Linked DNA regions of Homo sapiens. The protein of the gene in region 3 purifies or fractionates together with the protein of the main gene of each other region. This does not show direct contact. Each region holds a gene or a part of one and is shown on either strand. Other genes may lie near its edges.

What was found.
Region 1: the proteins of FBXW10 (region 3) and ZC3H7B purify together in Homo sapiens (affinity purification with mass spectrometry, with the first as the bait; one study listed by BioGRID). This does not show direct contact.
Region 2: the proteins of FBXW10 (region 3) and RBM47 purify together in Homo sapiens (affinity purification with mass spectrometry, with the first as the bait; one study listed by BioGRID). This does not show direct contact.
Region 4: the proteins of FBXW10 (region 3) and LATS2 purify together in Homo sapiens (affinity purification with western blotting; one study listed by BioGRID). This does not show direct contact.
Region 5: the proteins of FBXW10 (region 3) and PHGDH purify together in Homo sapiens (affinity purification with mass spectrometry, with the first as the bait; one study listed by BioGRID). This does not show direct contact.
Region 6: the proteins of FBXW10 (region 3) and AFP purify together in Homo sapiens (affinity purification with mass spectrometry, with the first as the bait; one study listed by BioGRID). This does not show direct contact.
Region 7: the proteins of FBXW10 (region 3) and GALNT2 purify together in Homo sapiens (affinity purification with mass spectrometry, with the first as the bait; one study listed by BioGRID). This does not show direct contact.

What each region holds. Positions count from the first base shown.
Region 1 is NC_000022.11:41,300,242-41,304,324, reverse strand, and holds the start of ZC3H7B (zinc finger CCCH domain-containing protein 7B), read right to left. Parts: upstream 2,801-4,083; 5' UTR 2,553-2,800; intron 2,293-2,552; exon of another isoform or gene 1,956-2,292; intron 1-1,955. UniProt on the Homo sapiens protein: May be a specific regulator of miRNA biogenesis. Binds to microRNAs MIR7-1, MIR16-2 and MIR29A hairpins recognizing the 'ATA(A/T)' motif in the apical loop.
Region 2 is NC_000004.12:40,437,865-40,441,364, forward strand, and holds part of RBM47 (RNA-binding protein 47), read right to left. Parts: intron 1,061-3,500; 5' UTR 1,030-1,060; coding exon 1-1,029. UniProt on the Homo sapiens protein: Single-stranded RNA-binding protein that functions in a variety of RNA processes, including alternative splicing, RNA stabilization, and RNA editing. Functions as an enzyme-substrate adapter for the cytidine deaminase APOBEC1.
Region 3 is NC_000017.11:18,775,054-18,777,451, forward strand, and holds part of FBXW10 (F-box/WD repeat-containing protein 10), read left to right. Parts: intron 1-82; coding exon 83-139; intron 140-310; coding exon of another isoform or gene 311-393; exon of another isoform or gene 394-439; intron 440-2,398. UniProt on the Homo sapiens protein: Probable substrate-recognition component of a SCF (SKP1-CUL1-F-box protein)-type E3 ubiquitin ligase complex which mediates the ubiquitination and subsequent proteasomal degradation of target proteins. Overexpression is leading to degradation of CBX5 and CBX1.
Region 4 is NC_000013.11:20,985,087-20,988,586, forward strand, and holds part of LATS2 (serine/threonine-protein kinase LATS2), read right to left. Parts: coding exon 2,795-3,500; intron 1-2,794. UniProt on the Homo sapiens protein: Negative regulator of YAP1 in the Hippo signaling pathway that plays a pivotal role in organ size control and tumor suppression by restricting proliferation and promoting apoptosis.
Region 5 is NC_000001.11:119,721,934-119,725,433, forward strand, and holds part of PHGDH (D-3-phosphoglycerate dehydrogenase), read left to right. Parts: intron 1-1,442; coding exon 1,443-1,508; intron 1,509-2,385; coding exon of another isoform or gene 2,386-2,516; exon of another isoform or gene 2,517-2,536; intron 2,537-2,851; coding exon of another isoform or gene 2,852-2,942; intron 2,943-3,500. UniProt on the Homo sapiens protein: Catalyzes the reversible oxidation of 3-phospho-D-glycerate to 3-phosphonooxypyruvate, the first step of the phosphorylated L-serine biosynthesis pathway.
Region 6 is NC_000004.12:73,442,721-73,446,220, reverse strand, and holds part of AFP (alpha-fetoprotein isoform 1 precursor), read right to left. Parts: intron 2,875-3,500; coding exon 2,777-2,874; intron 1,229-2,776; coding exon 1,099-1,228; intron 1-1,098. UniProt on the Homo sapiens protein: Binds copper, nickel, and fatty acids as well as, and bilirubin less well than, serum albumin. Only a small percentage (less than 2%) of the human AFP shows estrogen-binding properties.
Region 7 is NC_000001.11:230,073,738-230,077,237, reverse strand, and holds part of GALNT2 (polypeptide N-acetylgalactosaminyltransferase 2 precursor), read right to left. Parts: intron 1-3,500. UniProt on the Homo sapiens protein: Catalyzes the initial reaction in O-linked oligosaccharide biosynthesis, the transfer of an N-acetyl-D-galactosamine residue to a serine or threonine residue on the protein receptor.

The DNA.
Region 1 (4,083 bases), on a different chromosome or scaffold from region 3:
TGAACCCGGGAGGCAGAGGTTGCAGTGACCTAAGATCATGCCACTGCACTCCAGCCTGGGTAACAGAGTGAGACTCTGTCAAAAAAAAAGAAAGAAAGAAAGAAAGAAACTTGCAGCAGCCAGGTGTGGTGGCTCATGCCTGTAACCCTATCCCTTTGGGAGGCCAAGGCAGGAGGATTGCCTGAGCCTGGCAGACTGAGCTACAATTGTGCTACTGTACTCCAGCCTGGGTGACAGAGTGAGACCTTGTCTCAAAAAATAAAAAGAAGGCTGGGCATGGTGGCTCACGCCTGTAATCCCAGCACTTTGGGAGGCCGAAGTGGCTGGATCACGAGGTCAGGAGATCAAGACCATCCTGGCTAACACGGTGAAACCCCGTCTCTACTAAAAATACAAAAAATTAGCTGGGCGTAGTGGCGGGAGCCTGTAGTCCCAGCTACTCAGGAGGCTGAGGCAGGAGAATGGCGTGAACCCGGGAGGCGGAGCTTGCAGTGAGCCAAGATCGCGCCACTGCACTCCAGCCTGGGCGACAGAGCGAGACTCCGTCTCAAAAAAGTAAAATAAAATAAAATAAAATAAATGAAAAGTAACTTGCTAAGGTGGCCCAGGACTCTGGGAAAGGGTGACGATTTGGAGCCAGAAAACTGGGTGGGAATCCTACCTCTGCTGTCTGACTTTCCAGCAAGACACACAATTCGGCCTAAGGTTTCTTATCTAGAAAATGTCTACCTGACACAGTTGCTATGGAGGACAGATGAGCCAACACATGTGAAAGCCCTTTTGTTATAAACTAAAAAGTGATATTTGAGGGATTATTATTTTCAGATTGAGGGATTATTTTCAGATTCTCTATCCATGTCTCAACCGACATCTCAGCTTTCCTACTAAGACTCGAGAGATCAGCACATCCCACCAAGCTTCTAAGCCCCACAATAATCTACCAAAACCCCCATTCCTGTCTAACCTATACAAAAGCCAGCAGCTAAGAACACACAGCATCTACAGAACAGAAACTTTATCCCAGCTCAGGGACAACAAAGTCTCTCTCCCATCCTCAGATCTCATCCCTCCTGGACAGGTTCTTTCTTCCCACCTTAAGTCTCCCCACTTCTCAAACATGCTCCATCCAACTGTTGACCAGGTGTCATTTCCACCTTGCAGTCCAACTTCTGTGGGAGGTGGACACGGGGAAAGAAGACCACCACGGAGGGGATGGCTGTATGTGTGTAGAGGAAGTATTGGTAGTAGAACTAAAGATTCTGCCAGCATTTTGTGTCCAACACAGTTGCTACATGTACTATAATTATCTCATTTGTGTGAAAATTCAAGGATCTGCATTCTGCTATTTTCATCAGGCTGAACTGCAGATGCTGAGGAATATGGCAAGAAGTTGGGGTTCAAAGTCTGATGCCAAAGCTAGCAACCCGAGAAATAAAACCGCTGATCACCAGCTCCCCACTCAGGCCCAGCCCCCTTTTAGAGCCCCCAGACTCCCCACGCAGGGCCCTAGCCCCCTAGTCTTCCCCGTCAATGCCCTGTTGGCAATACAGCCATCAGGTTCTATCAGAGTGAGCTGTTTTTATATGATTATTTTCCCCCCTGGGAAGACGGCTTTGTCTGTGAAAGTCCCCCCAACCAGGCGCCTTATAAACGCCTAAAACAGACAGAGTTGAGGAGAAAGGAGGGGAAAGGAGGAGGGAGCAAACCCGGAGGGGGGCCCTGAGGTTCGCAGCGGGCAGGATGGGGGTATGAGGCCGGAGTCGGCGGCTCCCAGGCCCCCAGCCCCGTCAGGGCGCCCCCGTCCCCAGGCGCCAGAGCCGGGGTCCGCAGCCCCCTAGCACTCCCTGGACGGCCGCGGGCCTCCCACAGGCCTCGAAGTCCAGAGACTGATCCTGCGACCGGAAACGCCCCCCTGCCCAGCAGGCCCAGACCGCGCCCCCCTTTCCTGCCGCCCCCTTCCCGCGGGCCCGGCTGCAGGCCCCGGATCCCCGGGCTCGCGTGGCCGCCGCAGCCGAAAGGGGCGGCCCGTCGGGCGGCCCCGCTCCCCGGCCCTCGCCGCGGCCCCTCCAACTCCGGGTGCTGCGGGGCCAAGGACAACACAAAAGGAAGGGGGGCCCTGCCAGCGACGCCCCTGCCAGCCCCCGAGACCCCCTGCGCGGGGTCGGCAAAGCATCTGGACACCCCAGAAGCTCCGGACGCCGAAGAGAGAGGCCCCACGAAAATTTCAAGACACCTCCTGGGGGCTGCAGGGGCGGCCAAGTCTCCCCAGCGCCAGGTGCCCCCGGCCACACGGTAACTTTTAAACTTTGGGGCAGGGCACGGGGACCGGGATCCCCAAAAAGGAGCAAATGGGGTTTTAGAGACGATTTATTTTTTGCAAAATCCCACTTTCCAGGTGGCCCGGCGCGCGGCCCCGGCCTGGAAAGGGCTCTCTTCGCCTCTTCCCCAGCCCTGCCCGGCCCGGGCGTCCCCGAACCCTCGCGCGCGGGCGGCTCCGGACGCAGTGTCCCCGGCCTCTGCCCCGCGGGGCTCGGGCCGCGCCAAGCACTCACCTCCGCCGGGCTGCGCTCCCCGCGGGCCTGCGCCGAGCCCGATAAATGGTATGCTATGACTAGAGGTATGATTACGTTATTATTATTAGTAATAATAAGAGTAAATGCTATTTAATTACGGGCGGCCGCATCCTGCTCCCGGCGCCGCCGCCCCGGCAGCTCCGTCCATGTGGCTCTGGAGCGCTTTACTTTCATTTCCAGCCCCTCGGCTGGCCGCTCGCGGCAGCACCCGCTGGAGGCACTGTCTCCCTGCAGCTCTTCCTCCTCGGGTCCTAGAGAGCTCGGCTCCCGTCGCCTCGCCGCGCCCGGGGTGGGCGGCGCGGGCTGCGCACCTGGGGAGAAGGGCGGGGGGCGTGGGGGCGAGTCGGGGAAGCCCCATTCCCCGTCGAAAGCTCATGCCTGGAATTCACCTTTATTTTCTTTAAAAGTGTCCTGCCTTTTAGGGGGGTTTCTTTTGGCAGTTCTGCATTTCTGGGCTGATGCTGCTCAAACCCAGCGCCTCCGCCCTTCCCCATCTGTGTCAAAAGTCCCCCCGCCCCCCTTCTCCGGCTTCCAGGTGCTTTCATGGAAGGCTGCCCAAAACCCTGGTTGCGTTGTGCCCTTCTCATAGATGGGAACCGGAGACACATAGAAGAATCAGGACCTCACTTGGCTGGAGTTTTATGTATAGGATGTTAAAAAAAATATTGAATGACACTTGTTAAAGACTACAAGGCCGACTTTATTGGCATCATGATGGGTGTAGGGACCACTGCAGTGGGTTTTGCGGTCAGGGAGAGTATTTGGGCTCAATTCAGAAATCAGCATGGGCAACTGGGAATTTATGAGGAAGGAGAAAGGATCCACTGATTGAGCGCCAGTGCATAGGAAACTGCATCAGAGATGAGAGGATTCTCGCTTAAACCCATCTAACAAGATTCTTGCTGAAGGCAGGGCAAGGTGATCAGACATCACCTGGGGAATGGTGGAAAATGAGGAACCTGATTAGATATTGACAATCAGGGCTGGGTGCAGTGGCTCACGCCTGTAATCTCAGCACTTTGGGAGGCCAAGACGGGTGGATCACCTGAGGTCAGGAGTTCAAGACCAGACTAGCCAACGTGGTGAAACCCCATCTCTACAAAAATACAAAAATTAGCCAGGCGTGGTGGTGGGTGCCTGTAATCCCAGCTACTCAGGAGGCTGAGGCAGGAGAATCACTTGAACCCCAGAGGTGGAGGTTGCAGTGAGCCAAGATCATGCCATTGCACTCCAGCCTGGGCAACAAGAGCAAAACTGTCTCCAGAAATATATGTGTGTGTGTGTGTGTGTGTGTGTGTGTGTGTGTGTGTGTGTGTGTGTGTGAGTTCCCAATACCCCCTAGGCAATTTACAATGAAACACCCTTGACAACTTATCACATTTACCACCATGGTTATTATCACTCTCATTTCATCGATGAGGATGCTGAGGCCAGTTGGATTGCTGCATTTTGCCTCAAGTGAACTAGATGGCAAATGGTCTGGTGATTCCACCACCCCAGGTTGCTGGTG
Region 2 (3,500 bases), on a different chromosome or scaffold from region 3:
GGGCTGCTGCGCTGCCTCAGCCGCGCCGCCGCCCCTGGCTGCCTTCTGGTAGCGCGAGTACTGCTCCTTGTCCACGGGCTTGGCCAGCGTGACCTCCAGGCACGAGCCCTCCAGCTCAGTGCCGTTGAGGTTGTTCATGGCATGCACGGCATCCTCGCGGCTGGTGAAGTGCACGAAGGCGTAGTCGCGGATCTTCTTGACGCGCTCCACGCAGCCGGGGTTGAACTGGCCGAAGCTCTTCTTGATGGTGTCCTCGGTGGTCTCGATCATGAGGTTGCGCACGTAGAGGATCTTCACGGTCTCCATCACGTCCTCGTCCACGTCGATCTCAGGTTCGGCCCAGTCCACGGCGATCTGGTGGCCCCACAGCTGGATGCGGCCAGGCATGAGCTTGCGGCGAGCCATGGCAGCCGCGCGGTGGCTCTCGTACTCCACGAAGGCGAAGCCGCGGTTCTTCATCTTGTCGGCCGCGCTGGCGTAGACGATCACGTCCAGCACGCCCTCGGTGACCTTGGCAATCTCCTCCAGGATTTCCTCGCGCTTCTTCATCTTGGGGATCCCGCCGATGAAGAGGCGGCAGTTGTCCACGCTGCAGCACACGCCGAGCAGGCGGCCCGGGCGGATCTCGTAGTTGTTGAGCTCACGCACTGCGCGCTTGGCCTCGTGCTTGTGGCAGTACATGACGAAGGCGTAGCCGCGGTTCTTGCCGTCAAAGTCCATCATGAGGCGCAGCTCGTAGATGCGGCCCACGGCCTCGAACACGGGCACCAGCTCGTCCTCGTACACGTCGCGCGGGATCTTGCCCACGAAGACCTCGCAGCCACGCTGCGGGTGCGGGCCCTCCCAGCCGGGCGGTGGGCCGCCGTACTTGCGCTGCCCGTTCTCTTGCACCATGCTGTAGCCCGTGCGCTCCATCAGCGCCAGCAGTGCTGCCTCGTTGGGCGCGCCCGCCACGCCCTCGGGCACCTTGGCGGAGGACCCGGCGGCCGAGTCACTGCTCATGGCTGCGGTGGAATCCTCTGCGGTCATAATGTCAAAGGCATCCACAGCTGGCGGAAACCTGGGGAAGCAGAAAGAAGCGTGAGTGGGGAACCGCTGGATCTTGCCTCTTTTGGGTTGTGTTTCGCAGCCTTGCAAGTATGCATTAATAGGCCACGGGGAAGGGGAGGTGGTTTAAATGAGAAATAGGATGGAGGCGTTCTGGAAATGCAGCAGCCCTACATTTGTCTAAAATAGTCAAGTTGTCTTGCAGCAAAAACCAGAAGTGAGTTAGGAGAGAAAAAAAAAAATCAGAATGAGCAAGTACTTCCATTTCATCAGTACCCCGACAGCTTTGAAGTTTTGCGAAGCTGCTCTCATTTTTGGTAAAAACCTCACGTTCTTTTGCTTCATTCCTGCACCGTTAACTCCACCTGATTTCCTTGTTATATGGAATTTGACAAACTCCATGTATTTCTTTGGTGAACACAGCTTTCTTCTTTTCTTTTTTAAGGGAGTCTTTTTAATTGTAGGAATGGAAATACAGTGAAGATTTTAAATTATTAAAGAAAACTTTTAGGAGCTGTCATTGTATAGAGAGAGCTGTGTATTAAAGCTTTTTACAAGGAAGAAATGAAATGTGCACATTGCCACGGGCTTGGTCCAGGAACTGTAATAAGAGCTAATCTGATTTTGATGGTGGCATTCAGGTAAAATTCTTGGTGTGAAGCATTCAAAGATTTGGAATCAGTCCTTGAAGAGCTAGACTGACTTCAAGCTGGGGGACTGGGAAGCAGCATCTACCTGGTAAACCACACTATTGTTTTCAGAGAACTGTCACCTGCATTCTCTTAATTTTCTTAACCTCTGTATATGGTACATGGTATTATCCTCAGTCCCAATTTGGTCATGGGGAAATAGGCTTAGGTTGAGTAAACTGCCCCATTTCACACAGCAAGTGTCAGCTTGTAGGCAGACTTGATTCCAAGTTTTCTGGCTCCAGATTCCCTGTTTTTTCTTCCAAACCAATGCTGGGCAATCGAATTTTCTATGATGCTAGAAAAGCTGTCACTTGCCACATGTGGCTACTGAGCACTTGGAATGGGGCTAGTGTGACTGAGGAGCTGGATTTTAAATTTTAATTAAACAGCCACGTATCACAGTGCAGGTCTGAACTGTGCCGCCTTCACTTATATGGCCAAGGGCTCTGTGGAAGTGATTCTAAATTATGCAATAAGATTATTACGATGAGCTGCAGACTATACTTCTGTAATGAAAGGCTCCAATTCGCCTTTTAAAAAATGAAATCTATTTCATTTTTTGGACTATAAAAGTATTCAGTTAAATTTATAGAAAGTTAAGAAAAGTACATAAGAAATTATTCCTAATTTTCCTACCCAATGATAGCACAATGAAACTTTCTCATCTGTTTTCTAGATGTTTTCTTGAGGAGGTGGGAGGGGGAAGCCTGGCTTCCGCCTAATTTACATGGTGCTACTTTATGTTATAAGCATTCCTCTGTATTCTTAAAAATCTTTGTAAAAACATCATTTTTAATGGCCATATAAGGTTTCATCAATTAATTAGAACCCGGAGTATCATTCATTTTTTAAAATTTAGGACTAGGAGATGTATACAAGAATATTAAGGGAAATTTCAAGGATAATAAAAATGAATTTGATCATTGAAGGAAAAAATAAAACTATAATGAAACAAAATAAATCTGAGCTATTTATTTGCCAGATGGCCAAAATAGTCCTTTTGTGGTTAATTTGCTCTAATATCAAGCGGCAGTACAGTTTAGCAGGTAAGTATGTGGCTTCTGGAGCCAGACTGCATATGTTTGTTTGTGAATCTCAGCTCTAATACTTGCTAGTGTTAGCTGCTCCATGCCTCACCTCAGTTTCCCTACCTATAAAATCAGAATGATAATAATAGTATTAACCTCATTAAGTTTAGAGGAGTGAGTTAATACATACACAGCATTTTGAATGGTGCCTAGAATATTATAAATGCTCAAGAAATGTCAGTTATTAATTTCATCCAAACTTTTGAGTAAAATCTTAGACCAATTCTTTCAATTTTAGAGTAATTCTTAAGATAAACATCTTCAGTTCTTTAAAAATATCTGTTACACGTGGCTTCTATTCTTATTATTTTTTTCCTCTTCAAGTGCTTGGAAGCTGGTTTGACGTCTCCAGTTATCATGAAATTTTTTTGTAGTATACTTGGAAAATTAGTTTCTGTAGTTTCAAGTTGAAAAACATTTTTTTTTCTTTTTTTAAAAATAGAGATGGAGGGCCAGGCAGAGTGGCTTGTGCCTGTAATCCCAGCTCTTAGGGAGGCAGAGGTGGGAGGATTACTTGAGCCCAGGAGTTTGAAACCTGCCTGGGCAATATAGAAAGACCTCGTTCTCCACAAAAAAAGGAACCAAAAAAAAAAAGATCCCAATTAAAATAGAGATAGAGTCTCACTATGTTACCCCAGCTAGTCTCAAACTCCTGGGCTCAAGTAATCCTCCT
Region 3 (2,398 bases):
GCCCCATTATTATTGATTATATTATTTTATGCCCTAATCGAAGTATATAATGACTACAGCTTCTTCCTCAATCTCAATTTAGCAGTGTTAATAGAGGAACTTCAAAGTCAAGGAAAGTCAAAATCACCCCGAAGAGATGGTAAGAAGAGAGTTTATTCTGTTCATAAGGGAACAAGTGGCACGGATGGTGGGCAGGAGAATTTGGAAGCAAAATCCACAGCAGGAGATAAGACAAAAAGTCATACTTAATTCTGAATTAGTGGCAAGATCCAAACTCTTTCTCTCACTCTAGTTTCGTATTGTTTTCCAGCAGGCCACTACCTTTGCTTGTCTTTGAGAAACTGGAATGAATACAATGCCTGGCTTCTCCCAAGAGTGACTGGTTTTCCTTAATTGTCCCTTTTCTGACTTGAGGCCACAGAGGGAGAACCTTTCTAAGGTTTGCGTTTCCAGTTTTTGGCTGACTGCCTGCCTCTGTTCCCTGCCAGCTTCCTCACTTCTTGGACTGTTATGTCATCAATCTGAGAAATGGGCACAATAAAAGAGAGAAGAGGCAGTTGAGGCTGGTTTCAGAGAGAATTTTAAGAGACTTCATTAGGAAGAAGAGAGATTTGGGGCAGGTGCTATATATGTGAGATAAAGAGATAAGGGAGAAAGAGAGATGGGGATGCACCTTTTAAGAAGTGTTGCTAGGATGGGCATAGTGGCTCATGCCTGTAATTCCAGTGCTTTGGGAGACCAAGTTGGGAGGATTCCTTAAGGCCAGGAGTCTGAGGCCAGCCTGGGCCACTTAGCAAGACCCTTGTCTCTACCAAAAATTCAAAAAATTGGCCAGATATGGTAGCACGCACCTCCTAGCTACTCAGGAAGCTGAGGCGGGAGGATCCTTTGAGTCCAGGAGCTTGACGTTACAGTGAGCTATGATTGCACCACTGGGTGACAGTGAGACCTTGCCTCTTAAAGAAAAGAAAAAAAAAAAAAGTGGCCGGGCGCGGTGGCTCACACCTGTAATCCCAGTAGTTTAGGAGGTGGAGATGAGCGGATTGCCTGAGGTGAGGAGGTCGAGACCAGTCTGGCCAACATGGTGAAACCCCATCTCTACTAAAAGTATAAAAAAATTAGCTGGGCAGGGTGGCATGTGCCTGTAATCCCAGCTACCTGGGAGGCTGGGGCAGGGGAATTGCTTGAACCAGAGAGGGGTGGGGGTTGCAGTGAGCTGAGATCGTGCCACTGCAACTCTAGCCTGGGTGACAGAGCAAGATTCCGTTTAAAAAAAAAAAAGTTTCTGGACATCATGACTCATGACTGGGATGTCCCTTTGTTATTTTTTAAGGACATTGGTAAAAATTTAAAATGTCTTTCAAATATTTTTGGCTAGTATAGTAGTGTTTCTTTGGAACAAACTCTGTGCAGAGACTGGTTTGAAGTTGACGGGAAAACAATTATTTTATGAGGGCTGCGCTAACAATGGGCATCCTTGTATATACCTATGTCAGTGTACCTGTACAGGTATACCTGAAGGGTAAAGTCCTACGAGTGAAATTGCTAAGCCAAAGGATAAGTGCATTCAAAAACTAGAAAGATATTGCCAAGGTTGTCCTGAAAAATACTGTATCAATTTACACTCCTACTTGCAATATATGAGAGACCCCACTGCATTTGTGCCAACTCTGGGTGTTAGCTGGCATTTTGTAGTTGCTTGTATAAGTAAAAATGGGGTCCGCATTTTCTTCTAGGTTGACCATTAACAAACTAAATGTCCATCAATGGGCAATGGCTAAGTAATAAAAAAATCTATTGTATGGAATATTATATACAGCTAAAAATTGTATGATGAGGATCTGTATATACTAACTTGGAAAGAGATCCACAATACATTATCATTTGAAAAAAGACAAATTAATAAACAATGAGCTCATCACAATTCCTTTTTTTATAAAAGGAGAAAAATTCTCTTTTTGAGTTTGCAAGGAGAATAGGGAAGATTTTGACATCTTGATTTCACTCAGTTTTTTTTTTTTTTTTTGAGATGGAGTCTCACTCTGTTGCCCAGGCTGGAGTGCAGTGGCGTGATCTCGGCTCACCGCAACCTCTGCCTCCTGAGTTCAAGCGATTCTCCTGCCTCAGCCTCCTCAGTAGCTAGGATTACAGGCGCCTGCCACCACGCCCGGCTAATTTTTTTGTATTTTTAGTACAGACGGGTTTTCTCCATGTTGGTCAGGCTGGTCTCGAACTCCCGACCTCAGGTGATCTACCCACCTAGGCCTCCCAAAGTGCTGGGATTACAGGCATGAGCCACCGCACCCAGCCTGAAGACAGGTTTTATTTTGGGCAACATTCAAGATTACTTGGAGTCAAATTTGATTAATAAGGTAAAGATCAAATTTTGCAACATAAT
Region 4 (3,500 bases), on a different chromosome or scaffold from region 3:
CAGAAGAATGAAACTAGACCCCAATCTCTCACCATATAGGAATGTCAACTTAAAACAGATTAAAGACCTAGAAATAAGACCAGAGGCTATGAAAATATACTCCAGGACATTGGTTTGAGCAAAGATTTTTATGGCTAAAATCTCAAAAGCACAGGCAAAAAAACCCCAAAGTAGACAAATGGGACTATATTAAGCTAAAAAGCTTCTGCAGAGCAAAGGAAACAACAGAGTAAAGAGGATACCTGTGTTGAACAGGAGAAAATATTCACAAACTATTCATCTGACAAAAGACTATTATTCAGAATATACAAGGAACTCAACTCAACAGCAAAAAAAATATCAAATAATCCCATTAAAAAGTAAGCCAAAAGGCCAGATATGGTGGCTCACGCCTGTAATCCCAGCACTTTGGGAGGCTGAGGCAGGCGGATTACTTGAGGTCAGGAGTTTGAGACCAGCCTGACTAACATGGTGAAACCCCGTCTCTACTAAACATACAAAAATTAGCTGAGCATGGTGTCGCACACCTGTAGTCCCAGCTCTCAGGAGGCTGAGGCAGGAGAATAGCTTGAATCCAGAAGGCAGAGGTTGCAGTGAGCCGAGATTTCACCACTGCACTCCAGCCTGGGCAATAGAGCAAGACTCCGTCTTAATTAAAAAATAAATAAATAAAATAAGGCCAGGCGCGGTGGCTCACACCTGTAATCCCAGCACCCTGGGAGGCTGAGACAGGTGGATCATCTGAGGTCGGAAGTTTGAGACCAGCCTGAACAACATGGTGAAACCCTGTCTCTACAAAAACATAAAACTAGCTGGGCGTGGTGGTGCATGCCTGTAATCCCAGCTGCTCGGTAGGCTGAGGCAGGAGAATCACTTGAACCCGGGAGGCGGAGGTTGTGGTGAGCTGAGATCGTGCCATTGCACTCCAGCCTGGGCAACAAGAGCGAAACTCTGTCTCAAAAAGAAAAAAAAGTGAGCTAATGACCTGAATAGACACTTGTCAAAAGAAGATACACAAATGGCTAAGAGGTGCATGGAAAGATGCTCATTAACCATCAGGGAAATGCAAATGAAAACCACAATGAGATATAATCTCTCCCCAGTTAGAACGACTATTATCAAAAAGGAAAAAAAAGAAACTAAAAATAGAACTACCATACAATCTACCAAACCCATTATTGGGTATTTATCTAAAGGAAAGGAAATCAGTATATCAAAGGGATACCTGCACCCCATGTTTATTGCAGCACTATTCACAACAGTAAAAACATGGAATCAACTGAAGTGTCCATCAACTGATGAACAGATAAAGAAAATGTGGTCTGTGTACACCATGGGATACTATTCAGCCATAAAAAAGAATGAAATCCTGTCATTTGGAGCAACATGAATGGAACTGGAGGTCATTATGTTAAGTGAAATAAGCCAGGAACAGAAGTTCGGTTAGAACACCACACACTGTTACTGATATGTGGGAGCTAAAATAATTGATCTCATAGAGGTAGAGAGTAGAATGATAGTTACCAGAGGTGGGAAAGGGTGTGTGTGTGTTGAGGGGAGATGAGAAGTTAATTGGTGCAAACATACAGCTGGATAGAAGGAACAAACTCTAACTAGTATGACTATGGTTAGTAAAAATGTATTCAATATTTCAAAATAGCTAGAAGAGAGGTCTTGAAATGCTTCCAACACAGAAATGATAAATACACCAGGCAATGGATACTCTAAATACCTTGACTTGATCATTACATATCCTATGCATGTAACAAAATATCACATGTTCCCCACAAATCTACAAATACTATGTATAAATAAAAAATAAACGGCTGGGTGTGGTGGCTCACACGTGTAATTCCAGCACTTGGGGAGGCCGAGGTGGGCAGATCACCTGAGGTCAAGAGTTCGAGACCAGTCTGACCAACATGGCGAAACCCCCGTCTCTACTAAAAACACAAAAAAATGGCCAGGCGTGGTGGTAGGCACCTGTAACCCCAACTACTCGGGAAGCTGAGGCAGGAGAATCGCTTGAACCCAGGAGGCAGAGGTTGCAGCGAGCCAAGATCGCGCCATTGCGCTCCAGCCTGGGTGACAGAGCAAGACTCCGTCTAAAAATAAATTAAAAAATAAAAAATAAAAATAAAAAAAACACAAATGAAAAGTATATCTGTAAAAAAATCAGTGAATACGGGACACTGAAAAGAACACAAATCTGGTTTTCAGGCTTTGGAATTATTGGCTTTGTGTGATTTAAATCTGTTACATTTTAATTTAAATAGTTTCATCAATAATTACCTTCTTCAGCACTTCAGTGTCAACTAAGGTATATTTAAATCATTAGTTACTAACTAAACACTTAAAAGAATAAATGGAATCACTACTAGATACATTTTTCTTCCAAAATCCCACAATCTCAATTTACAAAACCTTAAACTTTGTTTCTACTCATTCAAATGTTCTATTATTAATCCATGATGAATTTTGTTAAGCGAGGACATACCCTAAAACTTAATTTGCTAATTTACCTACAATGTAAATTGTAGATTACCTACATTACGCTGGCTACATTATGCACAGCTATCTCTGATTCTTCAGAAGAGTCAAGGGGAAAGGCGAAAGGGAGGTCACACCATTTGCAACTTCTCCAAGTTGTTGGCCCCAGAACCAGACTGTCGCCCATTAGCCGTTTTGATGATAAGGGGTATACAGTCGAAACAGAAAAGGGATTGTGCGTGCTTCCTATTGCCAGTAGAGGGATGAGCCGGGAACAAATAGTAAAAATGAAGTGTGAAATTACTTTGGCCATTTCTTGCTCCAGCTGCAGCCTCCGGTTAACCTTCTGCTGGTAGGTTTTGATGACATTCTCCACGTGCTGCTCCATGAAGAACTTAAAGGCGTATGGCGAGTAGCTCTTGATGCGTGACTCTCTCTTCTCTTCGTCTCTGCTGTTTTTGCGGACGGGAACGGGAGAGGTCTGAATCTGCTTTTTATCCTTTCCGCCTTTGTCCCCCTTGGCGCTTTTGCGGCTCTTGTCGCCGCCCTCGGGCTCGTTGGGGCCCGCACGGAGGCTCTGCTCCATGCCTGCGCACAGGCTGTCCAGGTCGTACTGCTCCGACTTGCTGCGCAGCAGCAGGTGCTTCGGGTAGGGCGGAGGCGGGCACCTCCGGTCTGGGCCTCCGTACTCCACGTCCAGCGGGAAGGCGCCTGCGCCGCCCAGCGCCAGGGCATGCTCCTCCTTGGCGTCCAAGCCCTCCGCAGCCGGGGCGGGGGCGGGGGCGGGGGCCGGGGCAGGCGCGGGCACCCAGGCGGGGTGCGAGGGCCCCACAGCCGTCTGCGGCTCCGGCCTCAGCACACGCACGCTCTTCACCGGGTGCAAGATGTGCGCGGCCGTGACAGCCGTCACGGTGTTGGGGGCGGGCAGGGAGGGCTCGGCCTTGCCAGGCGGACCGGGCCGCGGCTGGTGGCTGTTGAAGGAGTTGGTCCTGCTGGGCACTGGGCAGTCA
Region 5 (3,500 bases), on a different chromosome or scaffold from region 3:
AGTGCTGTACTGTACCCGTTCTGTCACTTAGATGGTATGGCAAGGCCATCCCCAGGCCTCTTTGTTCTTAAGACTTTTCTCTTCCCTTGGGGACTTCATTGTCCTTAAGACCTTTCCCCTCCCCTGCACTGCACTTCCCCCTGTAGGGTAGAGGTTAATTGGTCACCTGACTGAAGTCAATATTCAACAGCAGAAATGTTAAACGATAACCCATCCCACATTCTTGCCTTGGACCCAGAGGCAGCCAGGCCCCAATCTCTGCACCTCTACTTGCGCCCCCATACAGCCTGTTTGCTGTGGGAGGATGAGAAGCCAGGTGGTTTTGCAGGCAGACAGACTCTGAGAGTCCGTTTATCTTATACAGGATCTCTTGACTTTTTCTTCTTGTAACCTTATTAACCTTCATTCCAGAGATGAAAAAGACAGACCCAGTAGGGGAATAATCAGGGTGAACACGTATATGAAATTCTTTCAAAAACCTAAAAAGCATTTAAGAAAAGAAAAATAGTTTTGTGGGTTGCCACCTCTATTTTTTTGTTTATAAAATGGGAAGGGTCTGGATTGCCCTGTGACTTAGGGTGTGAGGAGGCTTTCTCAGTTCAGAACTTGTTGAGAGATAGGAAGAGTAGTCAGACAGGTGGAGATTACTAATAAAAGCTAGGTTGGGGCTGCGTGTGGGGGCTCACACCTGTAATCCCAGCACTTTGGAAGGCCAAGGTGGGAGGATCACTTGGGCCCAGGAGTTTGAGACCAGCCTGGGCAACAAAGTGAGACCCCCATCTCTACAAAAATACAAAAAAAAAAAAAGAAGGAAAGAAAAGCCAGGTATGTTGGCACCAGCCTGTAGTCTCAGCTACTGAGAAGGTTGAGCTGGAAGGATTGCTTGAACCCTGGGAAGTCAAGGCTGCAGTGAGCTGTGATCATGCCAGTACACTCCAGCCTGGGTGACAGAGCGAGGCCTTGTCAAAAAAAAAAAAAAAAAGCCAGGTTGGGTAACTTGATGAAGATATGTAGGCATTGGACTGAGCCCTGAATTCGAGAGACTCTGACCTTGGTAAGATCAATGGTAGGAGCAGCAGGGAATTTGTGCTTTCTGGAGGCAGGTAGATCCTGAAATAGGAGAAAGAAAAGGGCTGAACCACACACAAATCTGATCATGTGAGACACTTCTCTGCCTTGGGAGGAGTGTTTGGATAGAGAGAAGCCAGATATGTTTCTCTAATGGAGGTCCCTCTGCAGGGAAACATAAAGCCAGGGGAAGGGGGTTTCTTTCCAGCCCTTGGCTTAGGGCGAGAGTACATCAGAGAACTCTGGACAGTGGCGTGGTCAGTTCATGGAGCAGGAGTGAGAGAACACAGCCTGCACTCAAGGCTTTCTCTTGGGGAAGGAGTGGGAATACTGGGTCTGTGCCCATTGATGTCCCCCTTTTCTTTGATCTTTAGCACCCCCAATGGGAACAGCCTCAGTGCCGCAGAACTCACTTGTGGAATGATCATGTGCCTGGCCAGGTAAGTCCCTGACTTCTCAGCAAAGCTAGTCTCTCCGATATGCCAATTATTACCACTTGCCAAGCAAATGGACCCAGAAAAACTTAGAAACATTTCGTCTCAGCGACTTGCAGACTGCTAAGAAGGCGACATGCAGACTGCAAAGAACCTTTAAGGCCATCAGGTCCTCTATTCAACATTCATTACACAGGTTCCCTAGTGCACAAAGGTGCACTTCTCTTTACTCATGTTCTATTCTCCATGCTGCAGACAATCTGCCTTCTCTAGCCTCCAACTCTTGCAAATGTTCTCCATACCCTGCTGCCTGGAGATAACAAGGAAGGATGTTCCAGGCAGCAGGGTATGGACAGTGTCTAGGTACCCTCTGCTTACTTTTCAAGATTAAGCTTCAGTATTAATTTATCCAAGAAGCTCTCTGGCTTTTCCAGCTAGGCTATGTCCCTCACTGATTCCCCTGGCCCTCAGGGCTTATCTCTGTCACTGCCCTTACAAATCTGTATTGTAATAGAATGGAGTAAGAACCTGCTTCAGGGTCCTTGTGTGTTCTGTGGGTTCATAACACAATGGAACTCAAATGGGCAAGACTCTTGCTCTTCTAGCAGGAGTTCCAGGCCTCTTGAGTGGATGGGGCAGCCTAGAAATCAAATGGTTGTGGCACAGAATGTGCTTGAGTCTCAGTGTGTTGGTTAGTAATTTGGCAAAACTGATTGCATGGAGCACTTCTGTTGAACAGGCAATTCAAGCATTTATGTGGTCAAGGGGAAGAACAAGGCTCCCAATAAACAGGGTAGGAAGTTGTTCTAGGTCCCTTTGAAGCTCCATGGATTCCCTAAACCAGCGGACCTAGGCATCAAGGACTCCTTGTTTCTCTACTCAGGCCTGAAACCTTCCGGGACCAAGAAATTACTTTTCCCATGGCGAGACCTGCTTTCCCTCCTGCTGGAGGAGGATCTGGGGGAATTTACCTCTGCTCTAACTCCTCCCTGCAGTTTCCATCTGAGCTCTCTGGTATTCACTGATATTCACTGGTAGGTGAAAGGAGGCAGTGGGGGGAAAGGAGAAACAGGGATAGCTTACACAGCAGTAGGGTCTCAGCCTAGAAGGGGCCCCCAGGCTGGCAGCCGGGTTCTCCCAGAACATCTAGGCTGAGTGTCTCTCCCCCTGGAGAAGTACAGAAGCCTGGCACCCTGGTTTCACTTCAGCTATTACCTTCAGGGATTTTTTTTTTTTTTTTTGAGTAAGGGAAAAGATCTCAATGTGGCTTTCTGATTAATTACCTCACTTTTTTTCTGGAGGTGGAAGGAAAGGATTGGGAGCCAGCAATACTTTCCCTCCTTTTCCAGGACCAGCTTTGTTTAAAGGAATCGGTGAAATGCTGTGGTTTAAAAGAAGCTCCCCATTGTCAACTGCTCACCATGACCTCACTCATCAAAGGTGCATCAAAACTAGGAAACACGCACACCCTATTGGGAAGGAATGCGTTCGTTTCATCAGACTGTTCCTAGCAGGGAGGACGGTAGGAGAGTGTGGGTGCCTATATGTAGACTCTACAGGATTGGGCAATGTGGGTGGAGAGCAGGCGTGGCTGGGCCTCACAGTAGGGACTTTGAGCAGATGGCGGGGGCTCCTGAGGTGCAGAAGAACAGCACACAGAAAGGAAGGAAGGAGAGAATCAACAAATGTAGGTTTCACCATTTTTGCCTGCTTTACCATCTCCTCCTCTAGTAAGTCAGGCCAGCAACCATTTAATTATTGTGAGGACCCTCGCCCACATTAGAGTCCTCTCCAGTCTGGCCTGATGAGGATTCCAAAGCATTGAAACCTGGAGAGGCTCCATGATCAGCTGGGAGCAGCAGCCAGAGAAAAGGGTTAGGGATTTCTTGTGTTCTGTGGTGCCGCACGCATACATCTTAGATAGCACTGTGGAGTCTGGTGGGAAGAAAATAGGATGTGAGGGAGAGGAGAGAGGGGCCAGGTGGGGCTCTGTCTCAC
Region 6 (3,500 bases), on a different chromosome or scaffold from region 3:
TTTAGAAGAAAAACAAGTAAAGTAGTACAGTCGCCTGCCAGGCTGCCTCCTCCCACTTCTTCCCCAGCTCCTCAGGGACTGTCACTCTCAGGCCTCCTCTGCAGCCTTGGCTTCTTGCTTACTTCAAGCATCTCACTGAATTGCCATCGGATGGGCTGAAATGAGCATTTTATCTTCACTTTCAGCCTTCTGGAAACCATAGTCCAGTGCTGGTTATCAAGCCATTTGAGTACCTAAGAGCAGTAATTTTTAAGCTCCTTGGATTTTAATCTCTTTGGTATGTCATGGAGCCCACAGAGACAGAGTAATCTGAGGGTCAACAGTCCTCTCTTGTAAAATCTAGGAAGTCTAGGGTTAGCCAAAATAAGCCAATGCCACACTGCTTAAACCACCACTGACTAGAGCACACTCAAGAAACTGTTGCTGGGTTTTTTAAATTTTGTTTTCTAATTCTCCGAGACCACTTTATTCACACTTGTCTTTGGCAAGGCTAGCTTTTTACCTGGTAGGACAGTTACTTGTGCAATTTTTATTGCATTCGTTCATTTAACAAACTATTATAGAATGCCTTCCATGTGCCAGGCATTGTGCTATGGAGATAACAGTAAACCAAGGCAGTCCCTAACTCCAAGGAGGTCACTGTCTTATCTCTCCTATCAGACTGTGAATTCCTTGAGGTCAGCCTGTGCTTTTAAAACAAGTGTCTGTCATAGTGGCTAGCAGATAGAAAGTATTTAATATATATTTATTTGTCAAATGAAAGAATAAATGAATGAAAAAATAAATACATTAAACCTTAGTTTCCTCCCGTCCTCCAAGTAACTATGGAGAAGCCTTCTGAGAAGTTCCCACGGTTTTTTTAGAAGTAAGAAATAGATGAGCCTTGGTTTCACAAAAAGGGGTATAGCTAAAGTGAAAGCCAGGATCAACAAAAGATGGTTTAAGTTTTACTACCGAGAATTCTGCAAATTTAAGGAGTCACCTAGTTTACATACTCTGTAACCAATTCAAGTCAAACAACCTTCTCCCTTTTAGAATGAGACAAAAAGAAAGAAAAGGGAGTGAAAATCTTCTATTTTAAGAAGCAAGACTCTTCACCCCATCCTGCAGACAATCCAGCACATCTCCTCTGCAACAGTGCTCATGTACATGGGCCACATCCAGGACTAGTTTCTGGATTTCAGTAAAATTAACTTTGGTAAACTTCTGACTCAGTTTAGTAACAGTTCTAGGGAAAAAAAAGAAATTAGAAATTAATTTCTTGGTTATCTGTCAAAATAAAATAGAATTTATAGAGTATTACTACAGTAGAAGTTTCAAAGAGAAATGACTGAAATTCCCTTGTTGTTTAAAAAGAAAAGGAAACATGTTTTAAGGCTTGATTCCAGCCATATCTTTCAAGGTGGTAGCTCTGTAAACTGTGAGCTGGCCCCACAAATGGTTTAGAAATAATTTATCTTTTCCTAAAACATGTCTTAAGAATTAAGGTAAATTATTTTTGCCATTCAACCCTTATGCTGAGCATTTGTATTGAGTGGACATAAAACTTTAAAAGGATAAACAATTAAGAAATGGAAAATTCCATGAAAATGAGAACCATTTTTTACTGGGGTAAAAAATACTTCTGAGAATCCAGGAAAGGAGGCGTATGTGCAAATCAATGAAATGGGACAAGAAAGTGGAGCAGATTAAACATTTCAGGCATACCAGTGTGCCAAGAGAGTAATGTGGCCAAAAAAGAAGTAAGAAATAAAAATTCTGGTTTCCTCTGCATATTTCATTAAATTTTAAGAGTTGTCTTTGTAAAACCATTGCTCCTAGAGAAAATAGTGTTACTCCTGCTTCTGATAAAGATGGATCTTCTCTATAAATTTAGACCACTTAGCTTTCACTTATGGATAGCAAATGATAAGGGTATTATAATACTATCTCAATTTCTATTTTATTACTAAGATAAATTTTTTTAAAGTAGGTCATAAATTAATCTTTCAATTTCTAATTGAGTTGGAGGGTAGTTAAGGCATAAATCTGACTTCTTACAAGAAGAAATTTCAGTCTTTAGAACTAATTCTATTACTAAAAACTTCATTCTAGATTTCCATTGTCTACAATATGCTTTAACGTGTTATTTAACCAAACAGCAATCAAATAAACTCTGAATATATATACTTACTACTATTCGATTAGCAGCTCAGATATTTTCATATACTAGAAATGTTTTATCATAAAAGAGTTGATGAGTACTTTAAAGAAGTTATATAATTTAAAATGTTCTTTTCTCCTGACACTAGATTCTAATATTATTGCCTCAAAGGAATATTTTTATGGGAAGCAATAAATGCTATAAAGAGCCTTATAGAAGATTAAGAAACACAATTAATATAAAGAATTTCTTGTTAAGGCAAAAGTTTTAAATGACACTCAGTGAAGGCTGACTTATTTTGTAGAAGAGCTAGAAAAATATGGTCTAGTGATGAGGTATAATTTGATGGCAGGCCAGAACTTAAGTGTCTTAAAGAACAGGTAAATAACATAAACTTTAAAAGTCTTTTCTATGTATTATCTCAGCTAGGCTTTAGTAAGTGTTAAACTGACTTATCCGTTAGCTTCCTTCTGATCCTAAGAGTTCATGGTTCTAATCCCATTAGCCCTCATCAAAGGGGTCACAAAGGGGTCTTCATTCTCTAAAACAGCAACAATTAAAAAAACGAACCCAAATTGCAAAATGGTAGTTCTGTAGCTCTCACCCTCTTCCCTAGATAGAACTTGAACTTACATGGCTTGGAAAGTTCGGGTCCCAAAATTTTTCATTACTGCACATGCATGTTGATTTAACAAGCTGCTTTCTCTTAATTCTTTTGTAACTGTTGCTGCCTAGATGTAGAGGAAACAAAATGTCATGAAAGCATATACTAACATTTTCTTTACAAGCTCTAATATTTAGAAAAACAACAAGTATAGGTAAAATGAAATTCCATAAAATATGTTTTTTACTAAAAATTATAAATGTCATACATTATCGCAGAATATTATTGACTCATTTATTCTTTTGGGTTAGTTTATATGCATCTGTGCCAGACAAATTTACTCAAAGTACCTTGAAACAAAAACATAACTTTTATACTGGGGATCATAAATGAACAACTGTACCTTTAAACAGCTTAAAGACAAATTGAAGCCTGCTAATTTCTTAAGTGTCTTCTCAGTTACAAAAAATACGATTGTATCACGGCTTGACACTGAGAGTAGTCAGTTCTCAGGAAATTTTTGTTATAGGACTGCTGGTAGCAAGTAGTTAATGGTGGATATTATTCTACCTCTCTAAACCTAAAAAAAATTTTCTTCTCTAAACCTCTTTCCTAGTTTGTTAAAGGACAAAAATACTTACACCTCAAATTTGTTCTAAGGTTTAAAAAAACAGTAAGTATAAAGCATTTATCATAGTTCTTCATTTTTTCTCTCTCCTCTGCTCCTCCTTTTCTCCGTTTTCTTTCACTTAC
Region 7 (3,500 bases), on a different chromosome or scaffold from region 3:
AAAGCTCAACATCTAGGTCAAGGGGAAAGCCCCAGAGGCAGCAAGGAGGAAACAATGAGACTGGGAGGCATCCCACACTGGGCCAACCCTCTCATCATCCAGGACAGCCATACAAATGCCCCTACCCAACAGTCATCTACACTTACCCAAATACTGATAACAGAGTACTTAATTCATGGGCATCTCCAAAACACAGGCCTTTAATTTGCACCGGCTCCTCAAGCTCTCACAGGGCAATTTAGCTAAGAAAGACCCTTCATTTGAAGTGCGTCATTTTTCTAGGGCAGCAGCCTGTCAGAAAGAAAAGAGTTCACTCCCTGGACTGGTCTCTGACGCAGAGAGGAAGAAACCTTGATGGCCACTCTTGAATGTGAAGGCCTCTCAAATTACCTGTTCTTTTTCCCGCCATGTAAATGCTCCAGTTGTTTTATCCAGAAGTACACTGGACGCACGGTGCCTAACCATCCCAATGGTTTTATGGGATTGGTACCTACCAATCCGATAAAATATCTAATGACCCTTCATAAATGAGAATGGCCTCTATGAAAAGCACCTGCATGCCCTCACCTTGAGAACCAGGACCAGCCACAACTTCCCACAGTTCCGCCTCCCTGAGATTGGCCATGAAGTCACATCTCCATTTTACTGTCCCCAAGTACAATACTATCTATCACAGAAGCTCAGTGTTACCCACATTGCCAAGAATAACCCCCCTCTCCAAAGCCTGGGTATCAGGCAGGCATCTGATCTCTGGTTTCCTGCAAATATGAATCAACAAACCCCACTCCCACCCGCAGCAACTCCCAAAGATCACATCACAGCGGAAATCCTGTGCTGGAAAAGGTGCACAGGGACCCAGGGGGATTTCTCGTTAAACAGCAATATGTGCAGAAAGCACTTTAAGAATGTGTACTGTTCTTCAATGGTGCACCTAACAATGAATGACTTACCCGATGCTTGGTGCTTCACAGAAGTCAGCTCAGGAATCAAGAAATGAGATTGTTCCACAAGCATATCCCACGAAGCTGATCAGCAAATTAAACTGCTGGAGCAGTCTAAATTAAAACTGCCTCGAGCAGCTGCAGGTCTGTAGTAAGGGAAGCGATTATGAGAGTACACACAACCTTTTAACCAGGATGCATTCATGCCTCATCGAGGAGACCAGAACAAGAACAGGTGACCAAGATGTCTACAGCATGGAGGGAAACTCCACCACTAGCCAACCAAAGGCAACATCCTTCGGGAAAGAAAACTGGCTCATTTGTTTAGCAAAAGAAACCAAGGAGTAGAGAGATCACCGAAAAAGAGGCTGGACGAAGATGAAACCAGGGGCTACCTCTGAAGCAGAGGGAACCACAATGGCTCCCTCTTAGTCTCAGCTCCAATCCTGCCTTCCCCATGAGCCTACGTGATCACCACTTTAATACTGCAACTATCCTTCCGCCCTCATCCCTAATCCCCATACACTGCTCTATTTTTTCCACAGCACACAGCACCTTTCTGCACACGACGTAACTGACTTCATGTCTACTGTCTGGCTCCCCGCAGCCCCCCACTAGAATGAAAGCTCCAAGACCACAAGGATTCCGTGTCTGCTACAACAACTGGTGTACTCCCAAACACTCAAGCAGTGCCTGGCACATAGGAGGGTCTCAAGAGATACTCACTGAAAGAATAAATGAAAAGAACCAGAGCCAGTTTTCATCTCTGCTCCTTCCGGAGGGGCAGCTGAGGATTGCGGCCTTCAGGACAGGCAGAGGCCTGGAGGGTAGGAACACAAATTCCATGGAGCAAAAGGTAAAAATGAAGAAAAGAGCAGCCGGGCACGGTGGCTCACGCCTGTAATCCCAGCACTTTGGGAGGCCGAGGTGGGTGGATCACTTGAGGTCAGGAGTTTGAGACCAGCCTGGGTGGTGAAACCCTGTCTCTATTAAAAATACAAAAATCAGCTGGGCATGGTGGTAGGTGCCTGTAATCCTAGCCACTCAGGAGGCTGAGGCACAAGAATCGCTTGAACCCGGGAGGCGGAGGTTGCAGTGAGCCGAGATTGTGCCACTGCACTCCAGCCTGGGCGACAGAGTGAGACTTTGTCTCAAAAAAAAAAAAAAAAAAAAAAGCAAAACAGACCAGCACTACTATCAAAGCATTATCAAGTGTGCATCTGCTCCAAGATGCCTTCCAGGAACTTTCCAAATGAGGCCGCAGTATGAGGGCACTGCCAATGCAAGGAAGGGGCATGGGAGGCCCAGGGAGCAGGAGCAAGCCAGGTTCACTGCTGGCTGGCAGAAACCCTCGGCCAGGAGTTGCAGAAAAACCCCACTGCCTCCAGAGGCCCTGAGGAGATCTCTTCCACCAGACAACCCTGGGTCTGCCACCTGTGAGCTCTGTGACCTTGGGAAAGTCACTTAACCTTTCTGTGCTTCAGTTTCATCAGTACACTAGAAGAAATAAAAGGGCTGAGATGAAATGCAGCCCTTTTATTTCTATGCACAGTGAGTGCCATGAAAGTGTTTATTAAATTTTGAAAATTAAAACGTATTAATATATTAGCCCTCCCCACAGTGGTTCACCCCAGACCACACAGAAAGGCAGTCTCATTACAAGAAGGTCTAACCATAATGGCTCAGACAGAAGGAATGAAATCAAAATTAACGGACTAAGGCAGTGGTTCTCTACCAAGGGCAATTCTGCCCACCTCCCACCCTCGCCAGGACACTTGGCAATGTCTGCACATTTTTGGTTGTTACAACTTGGAAGATCAGGGGTGGGAGAACTACTGGCATCTAGTGGGGAGAGGCTGGGGAAGCTGCTACACATCATACAATGCAGAGGACAGCCTTGCACAACAAAGAATGATCCAGCCCAGTGCAGTCGCTCACACCTGGAATCCCAATGCTTTGGGAGGCCAAGGCAGGAGGACCGCTTGAGCCCAGCCTGGGCAACATAGTGAAACCCTGTCCCTACAAAAAATTTAAAAATTAGCCTGCTGTGGTGACACATGCCTATAGTCTTAGCTACTCGGTAGGGTGAGGTGAAAGGATCACCTGAGCCCAGGAGTTTGAGGCTACAGTTAGCTCTGGTTGTACCACTGAGCTCTAACCTGGGTGGCAGAGTACAACTGTCTTAAAAAAAAAAAAAAGCCAGCCAAAAATGTCAATGGTGCCAGAGTTAAGAAACTGAACCAGAGCAACCACAGTCCCGAAAGTACCCTTGTCCCTGCCCAAATGCATGTCCTGACCTGAACTCTGGAAATTCAGTAACTCTACCCCCAACCCTCCTGGCCATTCCTCTTCCCTAAGAGTTAGGGACAGAAAACTGCCAGCCATGGGCAGGAGGAGGTGGTCAGCAGAGTGGCCTAGGAGAGACTCTCTGTTCCATGGGGAGCTCCTGGAAGGCTGCGGCAGAAGGGACAGTTGACCAGGGCAAGCAGCCAGCAAGGGCAGGCTGAGCCATGAGGGATCGGCCCATTTCCCAGCCCCCAGGCAGCCAGCCCTTAACTG